Linked DNA regions of Homo sapiens. The protein of the gene in region 1 interacts with the protein of each later gene in a pairwise test. Each region holds a gene or a part of one and is shown on either strand. Other genes may lie near its edges.

Region 1 (3,751 bases):
CTCTGCCTACAGCATTCTAGCCAAACAGCTCCGCTTTCTATACTGGAGAGACCATGTTCCATTCATCAGTATTTGTTCCCTGAACTGGAGCCTGGCGCTCCGTACATGTTTGCTGTATCAACCGCTGCAGAAAGCCAGCTTGGAATTCTCTGTGCTGCTGCTATTGTCCTCCACTTGGAGTTTCTTTCCTCAGTCCTACTCAGTGTACTTTCTTCCCTTGACTACTCATCAACATGGCCTTCCGATGCTGAACGTCTGGATAAAATCCAGTCTCCTCACTCTGACACACATACAGGCCTTCACACCTGGCTGCAACCTTCCCCTCAGGCCTTCTGTCGCATTCCCCTATGGCAGGACACTAGCTCCTCTGCGCCCTCCCACATCTCCCTGCCTCTGCACTTGCTGTTCTTTCAGATTTTCCCCACAACCACAACAGTTCCCACTCCTTTACTTGATAAACTACTACTCAACTTTTAAGACTCAGCTCAAATGTCATCTCAGAAGATTCCAAATTCTGAAGCAAAATCAGACGCTCTCCCTTGGGCTAACGCATTTTTCTCCTCAAGATCTAGTCATTAAACACATGTTTAATAAATGCTTACAGTCTTATGGCAGGAATTTAGACCCTTAGATGTCTATTTCTCCCATGACACCAAGCTTACATGGGTAGTGACTGTTACTGATTCATCTTCGTTATCACCAGTGTCAGGTACCATGCCTGCCACTTAAGAGGCATTTACCAGGAGCTGGCTGAACGGCAGCACCAGTGAGTAAGGGGCAGAAGGGACACAGCCCTGGACAGGGGAGCCTGAAAACAACGGTACTTCAGTTTCCTCATTTATATAAGGAAGTTGGGCGAGATAATCTCTTAAATTTATAATAACTCAAGTTTTACTAGACATTGGGAGGCGAGAATGGCTGACTGCTAAAATCAGTGAACCAAACAAATTGTGACTCGGTAGAAACACTGGTACAGTCTTACAGTGGATGTCCATTTGGGGGTAATCTTTTCTCTGAAATAACAGCAACTTTCTGAAACTACATCCCCCAATGCAAAGACAATTGCACACAATTGAATGCCCTCTCGTCGGGCCTCTGCAATTGGAAAAGGCACTTGTGCTTTACTTGAGCTCTAATCCAGAACTCAGGTCCACTGTGAACCTCACTACATGTTTCAGTGCATTCCAAGAGGGTGCTGAGGAGACCTGTGTCTGTAGCCGGGGAGTGAAGGAAGAGTGTAGGGGAAGCAAGATACGAAATCGTGAAAATATGGAGTTGCCTTATTTTTACAACTTAACATCCAAGAATGCAGAGAACTGTAACTCAGAAACAAATTCACATCAACACAAGTCAAACTGAGCACACATTGTCACAACTGAACAGGCAGGAGACACTACTGGCCAGGGCAGTGTACCAGGTTTACGCAACTCTCTGGAATCATTAATTCTACAGATTATCATTTCTAGGCAGGCAAGAAACCTGGCTTATTCTCCTTTATGTCTCCAAAGCCTAGTAGAGTGCTAGCATTCAATAAAGGCTTCGTGAACTGAAATGGGTTAACCTTTACAAAAACCCGACAGGGTGCGTTTATCGTTATCTCCGATTTAACCCCACAGGGAACTGGGGCTCCGACAGCTCAGTGGATCTGCGCACGTTCAGTGAGCCCGAGCTGTGACCTACGCCCGGGATGGTTAACTCCAACCGCCGCCGCGGGCGACCCGCTGCCCTCCGCCGAGCCAGGCCTGCCTGGGACAGGGGTCGTCACCACCGGGAGCGCCCGGCCGCGCTACCTGGACCACACAGTCCGACTGCAGCAGACACGCGCCCAGGTCCTCCTTCAGGCCCGCGCACGCGCCGCCCTGCGGCTTGTCCTCATAATACTTAGGCATGACGGCGCTTCCCCTCCGATGCGGACGCGACTTTCTCCCACCGCAACACTTGCAACCGGGTCGGGAGCGAGCGAGGCCCCAGTCTCAGGGGACCGGAAGCCAGCGGCAACAACTTCCGGCGGGCCGCGGCGGTAGGGCCGAGGACTACGGGGGCCGAGAGGTGGCGCGTCCGCGGCGGAAGTCGGTTCCCGTGACGCGGCGCGCCCCAAGGGCCGGCTCCGTTGAGGGAAGGGAAGCCCGCCCGGTGGCGGCTGGGGTCGGCTGCTGGGAGGAGGTGGTGGGCTGGTTCGGACGTGGGTCGAGGCTGTAGCAGGACTCCAGGTGAGGCCTGAGGACCACTCTGCCCTCCCGCGGCCCGGGCTCGCGCCGGGGGCCATTTAATCCCGACAGCTTGCGGCCTGACGTCGCTGCGGCCTGGCAGTGACCATGTCGGCGTCCGGCCCCTCGGCCGGCGATAGAGTTGCGGCTAAAATGAAAGGACGCCCAGTTACATTTGCATCGTAGATAAAGAAAGAGCATTTAGTATAAGCATGTCCGAAATGTTGCGTGGGATGTAGGCATACTAAAACCTTATTCGTGGCCTGTCTGAAATCCAAATGGAGCTGGGTATTCTGTGTTTTTATTTGCTAAATCTGGCAGCCGTACCCGCGGCCCCGGGCAGGGAGGGAGCAGCTGGGCTCGGCCAGACCCTGCCGGCGTCTGGGGGGCCTGCGAAGTGGAGGGGAGACGGGCAGCCGGGCAGTGGCCGGCGTTCCCCGGAGCTCGGACCGGTTGGATTGGACTCCGACGCTACCGCTCCCTCTGCTGAACTATTCCGGATGTAAAACACTAGGGATCGGAGTTTTTCTTGGTTTTTTAATCTCATTCTAGTGACCGAGAAGCTTGCTGGCAGTGCGCTGATGGATCTGTGTGAATAGGCCATTTATTTGACCTCTTCAGTAACACTGTTCTAACCGGCTGAAACTGCTTTCTTAGGCATTTTCTTAAAAGCTTGGTGGTTAAGAGCACGGAATTTCGAGTCAGATTTCCAATCTTGGCTCTATCACTATCCTCGGAGTCATGGGGCAGTCACATCATCCCTGTCTCTGTAATGGTAGCTGCCCCTGGATAAGTGTTATTAGGTGATTCAGAAGGGTGGGCTGTTGCCCTTGCCTGAGGTTGCAGTCTGCGGTTCCCAAGCCCCAAGACCCGCCTCAGAACTAACTGCATTTGCTTTTGACTCCTGGCCTTTCTCTAGGGTTGGGAAGAACATGGAAAGTGACCTCCCTGCCAAATAACTCAGAAGAGGAGTGTCGGTAGCCAAATGTTTCTTCAGAATACGTGTAAAAGAAATGTTTTTCTTCCATCTAGGAAGATGTTACCGAGTACTTCAGTGAATTCCTTAGTGCAGGGGAACGGAGTCTTGAATTCCAGGGATGCGGCAAGACACACAGCCGGAGCGAAACGCTACAAATATCTGAGAAGGCTTTTCCGCTTTCGGCAAATGGACTTTGAATTTGCTGCCTGGCAGATGCTCTACCTGTTCACATCCCCACAGAGAGTTTACAGAAATTTTCATTATCGAAAACAGACGAAGGACCAGTGGGCCAGAGATGACCCTGCTTTCTTGGTCCTGTTAAGTATCTGGCTCTGTGGTAAGTGTGTTTATCTGAGATAGAATTGAACGCTGAGTGTTTCTGATTAGATTTTTTGTTATAAATGTGTTGTGGGTCAGAATCTGGAAATATTGGAAACTATTTCTCCTTTTTACTGAAGCCTCAAAAAATCTCACAGGAAAGAAAGTTGTAGTCTTGGTTCTACAGGTCCCAAGCAGATGCCAGAGTAAACTGTTACCCTAGGACATTGAAAAGCAGGGGACAAGA
Region 2 (3,751 bases), on another chromosome or scaffold:
ACCAATGCTATAGGCCTTATAAATGACTCTCAAAGAATGGGTGAAATTGCATTTTTATTAAAGCAGTTTGTCAGGCTTCCTTTGAAAGGCTTAACTTCCTCCTTCTAACTTGGTAACAAATAACCTCAAGTATTTAAATTAGCAATGTTTTAAGGCCATTTAAAACATGCTTTAGAGACAGATCAGAGTTTAATTTAGGTAAATATTTGGAGACTTAAAATATATTACATGGTGATTTTTCATTGTTCATTAATTTATTTTCCAAAGGGCTTTAAAAAACTAAATGGTTAGGCTTCTTGGTGGATATACTTCAGGTGAGACATGTAGGCATACTATGTCATGAAGCAAGGGGATGTTGTCAATATTGAGTGAGGTTCAGTATTCTAGATCTTGTAATAGATAAGAACATCAGGTCCAGTTTAAAATGAGCATCTATCCCACAGCCATCCCAGGATAGAACACATCTTACCTGTGGCTTCCACCATTCCTTCTAGGATGACCACAATTTCCAGTTCCTCTTTGGGCAGCTGGGCTTTGGAGATCTCCCAGAAAGGACTCTGTTGGTTAATTTCATGGCTAATGATCAGCGGTGACACCAGAAACAGACGGTCATCCCCCGTGTAATACCCTACGTTGATATCCGTCTGGTTCAACGGGATGAACTCCCCCTCCGAGGTCTGTTTGGATTTGATCAACTTGGCTCTGATGGAAGCCTCCACAATGTGGGAATTCCTAAGGTCCCCTACCCGGAACATCAGGCACAGTTTCCCATCCCGCATGGAGATCACTGCATGGGTGGAAAAGACCAGGGTCTCTGCCCTCTTCTTGGGTTGAGAGATTTTTACAAACATGCATCCCACCATGAATGCATTGACAATGGACCCCAACACAGATTGGATTAAGAGAAGAATAATTCCCTCTGGGCATTTATCTGTGATGACCCGGTAGCCATAACCAATGGTGGTTTCTGTCTCTATTGAGAATAAAAAAGCAGAGACGAACCCGTTGAGGTTGGTAACACAAGGAGTCCAGGAGGGGTCCTCTATGTGGTCCATGTCTCCCCGTATGTATGCGATCAACCACCAGATCATTCCAAAAAAGAGCCAGGTCACTGTGTAAACCATGACAAAAATCAATAGGTTGAATCTCCACTTCAGGTCCACTAATGTGGTGAAGATATCGGTCAGGTAGCGATAGGTCTCCCTCACGTTGCCGTGATGAACATTGCACTTTCCGTCTTTCCTCACGTACCTCTGGATTTTCCTTTTGGTCCGATCTCGGCTGATGTGTCTTGGCAGGTCATCCCTGGCCTGCTTAGGCAACTTTGGCTGGTGAATGGCCACTGGGCTTTCGACGTCCTGATCCATGGAGTCGCCCTCCAGGACGTTAGCTGGTGGTTTGGAGAAAAGAAAAGAAACACTGAATGAAAGGCTGGCTCTTTGAGGACAATGGAACGGCACACTTTGTATGGGCTGGTGAAACCAAATACCATTTGTGTAGCTATAAACAAAGTAGACAAAGCCATTTTTATTCCACACCATCTGGATAGGCCTCTAGTTGACTTGGACTTCTGTGCTCTTCGATCTAGTTTGTGTAAGTACTTCACCATCCTGCCCACCAGGACGGAGCTTATTGCTGCAAAATTGTGTCCCTGCCAGCAGGTTCTACTGAGTCAGCTCTCACAGAGGGATGCCTCCCAACTCTGAGATGCTGTGGCATGGGAGAGGCAGTAAGCTCTGATGAAGGAGTCCTCTTTAGATTCAGACAGGCTTAGCTCTACTACTTAGCAACTCTTAGTGGGCTCTTGGCCATGATATCTGTTATGGACTGTATTGTGTCCTCACCAAATCCATATGGGGCTTGAGCCCCAACCCCTAAGGTGACAGTATTGGGAGATAAGGCCTTTAAGGAGATAGTTAAAGGTTATATGAGGCCATAGGGTTGGGGCTCCAATCTAATAGGACTGGTATCCTTATGCGAAGAGGGAGAGACACCAGGGGTGCACACAAACAGAGGAAAAGCCATATGAGACACAGGGAGAAGGTGGCCATCTGCAAACCAAGGAGAGAGGGCTCCCAGAAACTAACCCTGCCAACACCTTGATCTTGAACTCCAGCCTCCAGAACGATGAGAAAATAAATGTCCATTGTTTAAGCCACCCATTCTGTGATATTTTATTATGGCAGCCTGAACTGACTTACAACACACTATCCAAATTCGTGAGCCTCAGTTTCCTCATTTACAAAATTGATCATGATACCCAACTCACAGTGTTGTTATAAGGTTAAACAAAACCATGTATGTGATCTGTGCCTGCATGTAACAGACTTGCAATCAATATTTTTTTGTAATAAATTGTTCCCTTGTCACTTTCCTTATGTTTAGGGCAAGAGTCTTGAACAAGCTCTTTGAACTATTGGCCAAATTTCAGGGTTTAAAAAACATTTCTGGTTTTTGTCGGTAAGTATGCATGCATTGTACTTTAATGGTTGATTCAATGCCAAGGTAAGTAAAAAAGGGTGGGGAAATGTTCTCTCTGTCTGTGTGCTTACATATTTGATTTGGTTTCTGCCTCCTCAACATTCAACATCTGTAATTTTAGCTTGTGGTTATTTTTTTTCTTTTAAAAAAGTTTAAATTTTTTTTTTTTTTTTTAGAGATAGGGTCTCGCTCTGCCACCCAGGCTAGAGTATAGTGGCACCATCATAGCTCTCTGCAGCCTTGATCTCCTGGGTTCAAGTGATCCTCCCACCTCAGCCTCCTGAGTAGGCACAGGAGGCTCAGGCTTATGTCACTATGCCTGGCCAATTATTTTATTTTCATGGAGACGGGGGTCTCACTATGTTGCTCAGACTGGTCTTGAACTCCTGGTCTCAAGCCATCCTCACACCTTGGCCTCCCAAAATGCTGGGATTACAAGCATGAGGCACCATGTCTAGTTATGTTGTTTCTTATGGCTTTCATGATTAATGCACTGGTTCACTCATTAGTTAATAATGCATTAGGAAAGCTCTCCTAAAACTTGAGTGCAGGGGAATTTTGGAACCGATTTCTGCTGTTTAAAAGCATATAATCCACTTATGAAATTATTTATTTGGCCAATAATACTAAAGTCTTCTACAAGTTTGGTAAGAAATTTCTTCCTCCAGACTTAAATTCTGTGTCGTTTGACTCTGCCATGTGTTTCCTTTATGGACACTCTGTTTTTAATCTTGGTTAAAGGACAAATGTCATCTCTCCACAAACCATCATTTATCTGAATAAGAACATAGCCGGAGATGGGATTTGAGTGCCCCCAACCTAACTTATGAGTTAACCTTGCTCATGGATGATCAGTTGCCTTAAAAATCAATCTCCTGGATCTGTTTTTGTGTTTCAGCCTCAGGAAGAGACAGCATCTGTTCTGCAGAGCCTACTCTCTAGTCTGACAGCTTTGACTTTTAGATGATCTCCCTCAGTAGTCCTTCATTGAAAATAAGAAAAGTCATTCATTTGTAAGAAAATTTGCTTTTTTCCCTTTCTTAGAACAAATACCAGGATAGGTGTTGATGGGGGGCTGTTGAGGTTGGGAGGGCTGGAGGTGGGGTGGGTGTATGGATGGAGGCAGAGGCCATGTCCTTCTCACTGGAGTTAGGGTGGGTGTGTGGAGGGAGGCAGGGGCCATGTCCTTCTCACTGGAGATGGGGTGGGTGTATGGATGGAGGCAAAGGCCATGTCCTTCTCACTGGAGGTGGGTTGGGATGTGTGGAGG

What was found. Proteins that work in one complex are often made in the same cells at the same time.
Region 2: the proteins of UNC50 (region 1) and KCNJ6 interact in binary tests that used the Homo sapiens proteins (3 or more experiments, as listed by UniProt).

The regions. Positions count from the first base shown.
Region 1 is NC_000002.12:98,606,517-98,610,267, forward strand, and holds the start of UNC50 (protein unc-50 homolog), read left to right. Parts: upstream 1-2,072; 5' UTR 2,073-2,210; intron 2,211-3,126; exon of another isoform or gene 3,127-3,192; coding exon of another isoform or gene 3,193-3,243; coding exon 3,244-3,523; intron 3,524-3,751. Other genes in the region: COA5 (cytochrome c oxidase assembly factor 5), read right to left, coding at 1,791-1,889. UniProt on the Homo sapiens protein: Involved in the cell surface expression of neuronal nicotinic receptors. Binds RNA.
Region 2 is NC_000021.9:37,713,742-37,717,492, forward strand, and holds part of KCNJ6 (G protein-activated inward rectifier potassium channel 2), read right to left. Parts: intron 3,495-3,751; exon of another isoform or gene 3,380-3,494; intron 2,461-3,379; exon of another isoform or gene 1,391-2,460; coding exon 470-1,390; intron 1-469. UniProt on the Homo sapiens protein: Inward rectifier potassium channels are characterized by a greater tendency to allow potassium to flow into the cell rather than out of it.